3 linked regions of the Homo sapiens genome follow. The protein of the gene in region 1 interacts with the protein of each later gene in a biochemical or structural test. Each region holds a gene or a part of one and is shown on either strand. Other genes may lie near its edges.

What was found.
Region 2: the proteins of USP25 (region 1) and SUMO1 form a complex in vitro, tested with the Homo sapiens proteins (2 studies listed by BioGRID).
Region 3: the proteins of USP25 (region 1) and HBS1L interact in a test that uses a peptide from one of them, tested with the Homo sapiens proteins (one large-scale study listed by IntAct).

What each region holds. Positions count from the first base shown.
Region 1 is NC_000021.9:15,827,367-15,831,023, forward strand, and holds part of USP25 (ubiquitin carboxyl-terminal hydrolase 25), read left to right. Parts: intron 1-974; coding exon of another isoform or gene 975-985; exon of another isoform or gene 986-1,319; intron 1,320-3,164; coding exon 3,165-3,235; intron 3,236-3,657. UniProt on the Homo sapiens protein: Deubiquitinating enzyme that hydrolyzes ubiquitin moieties conjugated to substrates and thus, functions in various biological processes including inflammation and immune response.
Region 2 is NC_000002.12:202,232,014-202,235,670, reverse strand, and holds part of SUMO1 (small ubiquitin-related modifier 1 isoform a precursor), read left to right. Parts: intron 1-3,626; exon of another isoform or gene 3,627-3,657. UniProt on the Homo sapiens protein: Ubiquitin-like protein that can be covalently attached to proteins as a monomer or a lysine-linked polymer.
Region 3 is NC_000006.12:134,981,730-134,985,386, forward strand, and holds part of HBS1L (HBS1-like protein), read right to left. Parts: coding exon 3,612-3,657; intron 834-3,611; coding exon 729-833; intron 1-728. UniProt on the Homo sapiens protein: GTPase component of the Pelota-HBS1L complex, a complex that recognizes stalled ribosomes and triggers the No-Go Decay (NGD) pathway.

The sequences.
Region 1 (3,657 bases):
AATCTCAATATCAGGTTCACAGGGACCAAAAGATTTTCCCTGGATTGCTTAGCTGATTAATGACATAGCAGATGGCCTGATTTTCTAGTTTGCTGCTCTAAATTTATATCAAACTGGTATTCACAGTTACTCCATTGGAGAAATGTCATACAATATCAATGTTTGTACATATCAATTAGGTACTAAATCTAAGTTTGCACAGGGAGTTCCGGTGATTAAAAAATTTTCTTTGGGCTTAAGAATTAGAAATGTGAATTTTAATTTTTAATAGCTCTAACAGATTTATGAGTATCTATGATCCCATTACTAGTCTGTAACAGAGTTTTTACTGGCATGCAGCAAAATAAGAAAAATAAGGACAGTGCTCTGGGTGGGGTGTGTGCACTTGTGTGCGTGTGCGTGTGTGTGTGTGTGTGTGTGTGTGTGTGTGTGTGTGTGTCAAGTTGCCATCTGTCCTTTCTTGGAAGGAACTCTCTTTTATTCTTTTCTATTCTATTTTTTCTTTTTTTTCAGAATAAGTTATTCTGAACTTTTCTCTTTCCTACTTTGCTGCTGTTAAAGTGTACTTAAAAAAATGGATTATGGTAGATTTTATTACATTTTTTTCCTTAAATGTGAAAATATAATTCCCTATTATCATTCCCCAATTTTATGCTGATTTATTGATTTTTGAAAAAAATGAACTATGTGACATGGTTGGAATTATATTGAACAATATTGATTGTTGGATATTATATGACCAACTTAACTCTTTATAGACAATATTTGAAAAAGAATGGCCCTAATTTAGTAAGAAGTACATAAGGTATGATGGTGACTAACAGCATTAGTAGCTGTCAAGATTTTCTTTAGTATTTTTCAAATAAGAGGGAATTTTTAAAAATATTTGAACTCATTAACAAACATTAATCAAGCAAATAGTGTTGATGAAGCACTATATTAGGCGTTGGGTAATTTTCTACTCCTCATGGCAGGTTGTTTTTAAAAGATTACATTCAGAGGAGTGGAAGCTAGGAAGCTTTTGACACCTAAGTAGTGGCATTGAGGGAGGGAAGAAGTGAATGTACTTAAAATACTCTTTGGAGACAACTGACAGATGTGGGTCATTGGCTAGAGGTAAGAGAGAGGGACGAATCGAATGATTCTCTCAGTTCATAATGGTATGAATAACCAAATAGAATGTATTTTGGAAAAAAGGTAAAGCAGTGGGCAAAGAGGTTCCCACTCAGGGGAGGAAAGAGAAATATGATGAGTTCTCTTTTGGCCATTTTAAGTTTGAAGAGCTTTTTTGAGACGGAGTCTCGCTCTGTCACCAGGCTGGAGTGCAGTGGCATGAACTCGGGCTCACTCCAGCCTCTGCCTCCCAGGTTCAAGCGATTCTCCTGCCTCAGCCTCCCAAGTAGCTGGGATTACAGTTGTGTGCCACCACACCCAACTAATTTTTGTATTTTTAGTAGAGATGGGGTTTCACCATGTTGGCCAGGGTGGTCTCAATCTCTTGACCTTGTTATCCGCCCACCTCAGCCTCCCAAAGTGCTGGGATTACAGGCGTGAGCCACCATGCCTGGCTGTTAAGATTTTTATATGTAATACTATGGATCAGGAAAGAAGGTTTTCCTCAGGATATTTTTTTTCTTTCTTTCATCCATATTGATGTTAGCAGTTAGCATTATTTTGTAAACTATTGTGTAATATTCCAACACACGGGTATGATGTAATTCATTTAATTCCCATATTGATATTTCCTAAATAGTGCTGGTCTTCGATATACATATTTATACACTTCTGTAAGTAGGATATGTTCTTTTTTATGTTCAGGGGTACATGTGCAGGTTTGCTATAAAGGTAAATTACATGTCTTGGGGGTTTGGTGTAAGATTATTTCATCATGCAGGTAATAAGCACAGTACCTGATAGGTGGTTTTTCCATCCTCACCCTGCTCCCACCCTCCACCCTAATGTAGGCCCCAATATCTGTTGTTTCCTTATGTCCACCATTTCTGGTTCAGAGTGTGTATATTTTAAATTTTGACGACTGTTTTAAAATTGTCACTCCAAAACATTAAACCAGTTTGCATTCCCACTGTGTGAGAGAGCCTGTCTCCCAGTATCCTCCCTAGCCCTGGACACTTTTTAGTAGTTTTTCACAATTGAAAAACTGGTATTTTAGTGTTTTGATTTGCATTCCCTTAGCTTCGAGTGAAGTTGGATATTTATATTGTTCTGTAAATTTCTTGTTTGTGACATTTGCCCATTTTTTAAGTATTGAGCTATTTGTATTTTTCTTATTACTTAATAGAAAGTTTAATGTATTGTGGATATTAACACTTTACCTATAATATCACATATGCTGCAGATATTATTTTCCCAGTTTTTCATTTGATTTTATGTTGGTTTTGTTTTCTTTTTATAATGTAGATTTTTTAAAGTGTTGGGCAGGGAGGATCTTATCTTTTCCTATAAGGTTACTAGTTTTCTGACAGGCTTAAGACAGGTCTTTCCCCACTCTAAAGTTAGCCAGTTTCTTTTATAGTTTTTCAAGGTTTCTTCCTGATTGGTTCAGCAGCTTCACAATATGATGTGGTTACAATCTAACCGTTTCCTTATTGACAGATATTTAGGTTATCTCTTTTTTAAAAATTATTGTGGACAATATGACTGTGAACATCCCTATCTGAACAATTTTGTAGGATTATTTTCTACTAGAAGTAGAAATAATTGTCATGGGAGTGCCATAATTTTATTTTCACTGGTGATTATAGTCGATTTTTATTCAGTTATGTGTGTGTACAAGATATGTGGTGAACATGTTTTACTTTGTTCTTAAGTTTACTTGTGTTATAGCAATATGTAAGGAAGCTTAGCTTTCATTTTCATTGAAACTCTCCTTTATAGATTTGAACAAAATTCACTTTTATTGGCTCTGCACATTTTCTAGATAAATCATATTTGTGTTGTTTTTAAAGTATGCATTTGTACTGTGTCTTTTATTAAGAATAACTATAATTCATTTTCTACAGATTTCAAATGGTAATGTTTTTTAAGAAAAGTTTTAGGAAAATTTTCCTATTCCTCTAACATGTTTGTAGGAAAAACATTAGTCCTTATCTTATAAGTAGAAACACATTTGCTGTTAATCATTAAATGACACCTTATATCCTTAGATTTGCAGGAAAGCATATCCAGAATCCATCGAACAATTGAATTAATGTACTCTGACAAATCTATGATACAAGTAAGTGAAATTTTGAGCTAGTAATCATTGTCAAAATTATTTACATATATTTTAATTTACCTTTACATTATCTTAATCTAATTTTTCTTTACATGTTTTGTTTTAAAATTTTGGCAAATCTTATTGTAAAATAATAAGGGCTTGCAATATGTACAATGTGACAGTTCATCTGAATGGGGAAACTTTTATAACAAATTTATAACAAAATTCATGACAAGTTTTCCCCATTCAGTTGTATTTTCACACCGTATGTGTTGTGTACCCTTACTATTTTACAGTAAAATCTACCAAAGTTTTTCAAAAGGCTATAGCATCTTTAAAAAGTCTTATGGGAGAAAATCTATGGTTGTTAAAGGATATTAAGATTTGGGAAGAAACTTAAGGACTCCATTACATTTTAACTTCTGGTGTATATCATATAA
Region 2 (3,657 bases), on another chromosome or scaffold:
AGCCAGGCATGATGGCCTGTACCTGTAGTCCCAGCTACTCAGGAGGTTGATATGGGAGGATCACCTGAGCCTGCGAGGTCGAGGTTGCAGCAAGCCAAGATCATGCCACTGTACTTCAGCCTGGGCGATAGAGACCCTGACTCAAAACAAAGAAGACCCAGTACAAGTTCAGTGTTGAGTGCTAAAGACTTAAAAGAGTTATAAAGCTGAACCCTTAATCTTAAGAGGTTTATAAGTGAGAACAAGAATCTCCAAATCCTGTACTGTTTAATATCAGCATGAGACTAAACCACTGTCCTAAGAAGACAACCTTAATTTGAATCAAGTTATTTTAGAGTGATGTGTTTTCTGAGGCAGCTCTCAGAAGGTTATTGTCTGGTGTTAAAATAGTGAAATTGAGTAATAACAAGGTTAAAATCGGTGGACATTAAATACACACAAGACTTCAATTGCTGGGTCCTCCATTGATTAATGAAAAAATGATTGTTTTTGGAATTTGAGTGAAACACTTCTTAATGGCTGAGTAGGGTGGCTTACGCCTGTAATCCCACCACTTTGGGATCACTTGAGGCCAGGACTTTGAGACCAGCTTGGCCAACATGAGGAAAGCACGTCTTTACTAAAAATACAAAAATTAGCTGGGCCTGGTGGCTCATGCCTGTAATCCCAGCTACTTGGGAGTCTGAGGCGAGAGGATCGCTTGAGCTTGGGAGGTGGAGGTTGCAGTGAGCGGAGATCATGCCACTGCATTCCAGCCTGGGCGACAGAGCAAGACTCTGTCCCAAAAAAAAAAAAAAAAAAAAAAGAAAAGGAAAAAAAACAAAAAACTTTTTTTTTTTTTTTTTTTTGAGACGGAGTCACAAAAAATTAGCCACCATGCCCAGCTAATTTTTTTGTATTTTTGGTAGAGACAGGGTTTCACCATATTGGCCAGGCTGTCTCGAACTCCTGACCTTGTGATCCGCCCGCCTCGGCCTCCCAAAGTGCTGGGATTACAGGCGTGAGGTGCCGTGCCTGGCAAAAAAAAAAAAAACACAAAAAAACCCACTTCTTTATAATTTTAACAATTCCAACATCATCTAGTAGATTTGTGTACCATTATTAAATAATCCTTTAAAATAAGTTCTAAACCTAAGGCCCATAGACCATAAAGACTGAAAGTTCGCTTACATTGTATGGAGTGTTTTGTGAGTATTTGTGCATACGTATTTTTTTTTTTTTAAGATAGAGCATTGCTCAATTGCCCAGGCTGGAGTACAGTGTGGTGTGATCTCGGTTACTGCAACCTCTGCCTCCTGGGTTCAAGTGATTCTCCTGCCTCAGCCTCCCTAGTAGCTGGGATTATAGACACATGACACCATACCTGGCTAATTTTTGTATTTTTTGTAGAGATGGGGTTTCATCAGGCTGGTCTCGAACTCCTGACCTCAGGTGATCTGCCCGTCTTGGCCTCCCAAAGTGCTGGGTTTACAGACGTGAGCCCAGCCATATATATATATTTTTTTTAAATAGGAGAAAGGACCCATAGTCTCATCAGGGGTACGTGATTCCTCAAAATGGTTAAGGACCATCCTTTAACCAGTAACAGAAATCTGATTGGGTGCTTTCCTTTAGCCCAGTCTCACCTTGTAGCAAAACAAAGTGCTCGTACAGAACCCGAAGCTTAATATCAAAAGGATAAGGGTAATTTGTACAAATATTTTCCCCTTCCTCCTTTCTGATATTTGAGTTTATAGTGTTTCTTTTTTATACCAAAATCATTAAAGGTAGCTTGGTCAGCTCTTCAATTCAAGTCTGTTAATTGTAGCAATTGGATGACTGTTCCACTCTAACTGAATCTGTATTAACACCCCCAAAGAGAGATTGAATGATTTCCTTTTATCTTTAGTCAAGGATTTGGAAGCATTGTGTAATTCTGATTATCTGATACATTACCTCAAAATTTTGTGACTTAAAACAACAGCCATTTATTTTGTTTATAAATCTGCAATTTGGACAGGGCTCTGTGGATTAGACTCACCTCTGCTTCTTGGTGTGTGGGGCCTCAGCTGAGATGACTCAAGTGGCTGGGGGCTGGAACAGCTAGTTGTCAGGTGAGATGAGACTGGATGGGGCAAGTGTCTCCATATAGTCTCAGAGCCTTTCTTAGTGGTTTCATCATGTGATGTCAGCATGGAGACCCCAGGGTATTCAGACTTACGGCTCAGGGATCACAGAGAGAATAGGTGTTCCAAGAGAACCTGGGTGGAAATAGCAAGTCTCCTACAACCTAGCCTTGGAAGTCACGTCTGTAATTCTGTTGCCCACTCAAATCACTAAGGTCAGCCAGATTCAAGGGAAAGGCATTTATTTAGACACTGTTTCTCAATGGGAGAGTAACAAAGAATTTGCAGTTATCTTTAATCTACATTAATTGTATTTTTGCTGCCATGATAGTATTATTCCCTGCAGTGTTCTATATAGCTCCCTGCTATTGATTTTTACTGATTTTAGAAATTCTTTGCTTGAGATAGCAGGAGAATATGATGAACTGGTTGTGTATTAAAATTCATAATTGTGTGTACTACTATTTATATCATAGAATAGATATGTTAAACTGTAGTTATTACTTGAGTATGTAGTTAAGCATTTCATGCCCTAGGAGAAGAAGAATACTGTGTCCGCTCTGATAGACATGAGGTCCTGCTAGTGGATGTTACAAATGTATAGATTGTAGCATTATCTAAACAAACTTTACTAGTAGTTTAAAAATTGAATATGAATGTTATGATTACTCATTAAGATTTAGTAGTTCAGATTTAAAAACTATTAAGTAGTTGTCAACTCATGACATCCTTTAGTCCCGAAGGCAGTTAGGGTATCTCTTTCATAATTTTTACATGTAATGTTACAGTTATTTACGTTCCTTTTTTTTTTTTTTTTTTGAGATGGAGTCTTGCTCTGTGGCCCAGGCTGGAGTGCAGTGGCATGATCTCGGCTCACTGCAACCTCTGCCTCCTGGTTCAAGTGATTCTCCTGCCTCAGCGCCTCGAGTAGCTGGGATTACAGATGTGTGTCACCACGCCTGGCTAGTTTTTATATTTTTAGTAGTGATGGGCTTTCCCCATGTTGGCCAGGTTGGTCTTGAACTCCTGACTTCAAGTCATCCACCTGCCTCGGCCTCCCAGAGTGCTGGGATTACAGGTGTGAGCCACCGCGTTGCCAGTTATTTACATTCTAAGTGTCTTTTCTCCATTACATCAGGCTTTATTTATCCTCTTTTTCCTGTAATGCTTAGCACATTGAGTGGATAATTAGTAAAAAATTTTTTAAAGGAGAGTGGCCAGATTCATTCAACAAATGTTTATTAAATGTCACAATGTTCACAGCATGATTCTAGGCCCTAGAATTGGAAGGTCGCCTCAAAAACATGAAACAGCAGGTACCTTCCTCCTCCTCTTTCAGTCCTCTTGATGTTGTTTTGTTATTGAGGCAGGGCTGGTTGCCATGGAATAGTTTTTCTCTTATGATATTTTTGCATACCTTCTTCATCTTTACTTCTGTTAGCAATAGACCTGGTAACTATATCCAAAGTTGAATCATTTACTTCTTCCAGGACACTGGGATTGTTAAGGATGATTTTTTTTTTAAAAAATGAAAGGTCTCACATATTTATTA
Region 3 (3,657 bases), on another chromosome or scaffold:
CAGAATAAAAGAGGTATAGAATTAGAAAGTTTTAGTCAAAATCTGGAAAATAATATACATGTACATGTAACATATAACATGTATACATATACATAAATATATATATGTGTGTATATATTAGAAGACAGAAACAATTATCAGTCATTATGAAAAAAATTAGATCTATATGCAGAAACAGTGACTGGCAATTTAAACTAGTTCAATTTCTCTTTTCAACATTGGGTTTTTCTCCATTTGAATGTTACTTATATCTTCCTATAAAATATACCTACATTTTTGGCATAAACATGATCAAAGCTGTTAATTTATAGTTATTCTGAAACATACATTTCAAAGTAACAGACTGTAGAAGGCTGCTTTGCCACTGACTAGTTAGGGTAAGGCTGGGACTAGATTTAATTTCTGCTACAGAATATTATTCCAAATACATCTGTGAGGTATCTATACATATCTGATTAAATCCTAACCAGGCTTCTCAGATCTGTGTCAAAAATAGAATGCTACTACAGTTAGAATGTTTATGTACATATATATACAGACACAATCACAACAGAAAAAAATCGTTTAATGTTTTCACATTTTAATCTTCAACAGTCAGTATCATTTTGACAGTCAGTTACAATTTCAGTAAGAGGTTACTTACTTTGGAGTTGTAACTAAACCACTTTTTAAAAATCTGCTGTCTCAACTTAAGGCTTGTTTAGCAAAAGCATCTTGCAGATAAATACCTTTCACGGTACAAGTTTCATTAGGAGGCATTGCCAGTAGTCGGTCACCAGTTTGGATATAACCAGCTTCTATTTTACCAGTTATGCAAAATCCAGATCCTTGATCTGCAAAACATACCAAAATCTTATGGTTCATACAGCAATGTTATCTGATGATTAATACCGTTAACTATACTTAGTTCTCAAGTAGTCATATAAAACTAGTAGTTCAATGGACATTAAATAATAATCATTTCAGAATTAACATCTCTACTAAATATGGCATACCACACTTTACTTTTTTTTTTTGCAAATAAAAATACTCATATTACCAAAGAAAGGTTCATTCCTTTCTCAAATATTTATTGAGAAATAATAAATACGTAGTACCAGATATTATACTAAACTCTGGGGATAAAAAAAAATAAAAATGTAAGTCCCTGCCCATAAAGATATTATACTAGTGAAGAGAAAGATGGAAACAATTACATTGTCCTGAGACAAATAATATGTAAAATATACAATAGAAACACAAAGGTGCACCAAAGAATCCATGATGGTGAGAATAGACATCTGGCACTCTGAAGAAGGAATAAGTGTTTATTAGGTAGCTTGTATGCATGAGTAGGGAGAAAAAGGAAGACACTGCTGCCCCAGGAAACTGTGTGGGCAAAGGCATAACCAAATGTGGGATGGGCTAAGAGTCATGTGTCACTTGTGGGGGCCATGGGGAGGGGACCATATAGAATAATGAAGAAAAGGTAAGACAGGAGGCAACAGAGATAGGCAAGGGAGAAATAATAAAGGGGTCTCATAAATCACGCTTAGGGTTTAAATTTCATCCTGCAGTTAAGTAATAGGAAGCCAGTAAATATTGTGACCGGAGAAGTAAGGTGATGGTATTTCTGTCTTAGAGTAGAGGCTGATACAAATGCACAAACTTACTACAGAAAGGGAATAAACTCAAGAATTCGGGAATAAGGAATAACAAGTTTGGAGTGGTAAGGAAAGTGAAGACTAATGACAGAAAGGGGAAAATGTGAGATGATGATGCATTAACTGTGAGATATGAAACTAAGGACAAGATCCATTTTAGGCTTGGTAAATCTGAAGTGTCTATGAGACACACACATGCAGAAGTTGCATTCCGGGGGGACCAATCACACCACATTCCATGAGAATGGTACCCCTAAAAGAACACTCTCCCAGGAGAGATGTCCAGTAGTGCTTAGACAAGTGTGTGGAGAATGAGTGAAAAGGTTTGGGTTGGAGATACAGATTTGGGAAGCATCAAGATGCAGAAGGTAGAGACACTCATGGATGTCAGTTCAAAAGGAACTTGAAGACTAAGAAGAGGACTGAGGCAGCAGAACACTGTTTAAAAGACAGAGAATGAGGAGCCCATAGAGAAGATATAGAGAGGTCAGAGATAGACAGGTCAGAGAAATAGACAGGTTAACAGGAGAAAGCAGGTCACAGAAACCAAGGGAGGAGTTTCAAGGTGGATGTGGCTACCAGCATCAGAACCAATGCCAAATTCAAGTAAGATAGAATTGAAAGTGTATATTGACTTTGGCAACCAAGAGGTCATTTCATGACCTCAGGAGGAACACACTCAGGAGAGCAGCGTAGGCGGAAGCCAGGAAGCAGCCTGAAGGGGGAACAGAAGGTGAGAAAGTACAGTCAGCAAACACTGTTAATCAAAGAAAAGTAACCACCTCTTGTATTCTTGATAAACAATGGGCATCTTGGAAACTATTAGCATATTTCCTCTATTACTAGAACACTGGAAGCTAATAATGATAATGATAAATTTTGATTTCATTGCATGATTTTTTCAAAGCACCTTCATTCATTCATTTTTTTATTCATGTGTTAAATGTATTATGTGCCAGGCACTGGGCTAGGGCCGCAGATATAGATAAAGAAGAGATAGTACTTGCCTTCAAGGAGTTCATAATCTAAGTGGGATAAACAGACAGCATAGAAAAAATTATAATGCTGCATGAAAGCACAATGACAGAGGATACAGAGAATACAGAGGGACGCGTCAGGGCATGTGCGCAGGTAAGCACGCCGGTTACCAATTTACTGCTGCTCAGTTCCACATTCACTCTGCATTGCTGGCTCTGTGACAATGGAGATTTAGAGGACAAATGACATCCTTACAGTTTTTATTATTGTAATAATAAATCTTATATCCTTTTATTTATTGAGTTTTTAAATTGTATTTCCACTTTATAGTCTTCTATATAGGATCTTGCCCTTATTAAGTTAGATATATTCTTAGGTATTTAATATATCATCTCTTCCAGCAAGCTCTGAACCTCTTCTACGTTGGTCCTTCCTCAGCCCTATCTATAAAGTTTCTGTATATCTTTTAGTTGCATTTTTATCATAGTTAATAATTCTTTATATTACATTTCCCATTTCACCTATGTATGGTATCTAACTCCTAACTGGACCCAGACTGTTACAGATGGGGAGGAAATGGACAAGTAAAGAGAAAGAACAATACAACAGGGAAGCACGGGTAGACATGTGGCAATAAACACATCCTGTGTGGTTAAGAAACAATAAACAATCCAGTTTGGTTGAAGGATTTGAAAACTAAAGGAATCTAATGGGAGAAAAAAAAACTATAAAGTTAGAAAGACAAAAGGCAAGGTTTTCTTATGCTTGAAAGATGAGAAATGGTGAGTAAACTGAAGGTTTTCCTGGACAGGGAAGCTAAGTGACTAAATCTGTGCATTTTAAGATTAATCTGACAGTGATCCTTACTTGGGCATGGAGAGGAGAGACTCTGAAGGCAATATACTGTCATAACTTAGTCCAGGAAAGGAGGTTAGGAGGGAATGGGGAAAAGGGGCTATACTGAAGAAGCACTACAAAGGTAGCACTTACCTTTGAAAACATCGGACACACATAATCTAAAAGGTTTGTCAATAGA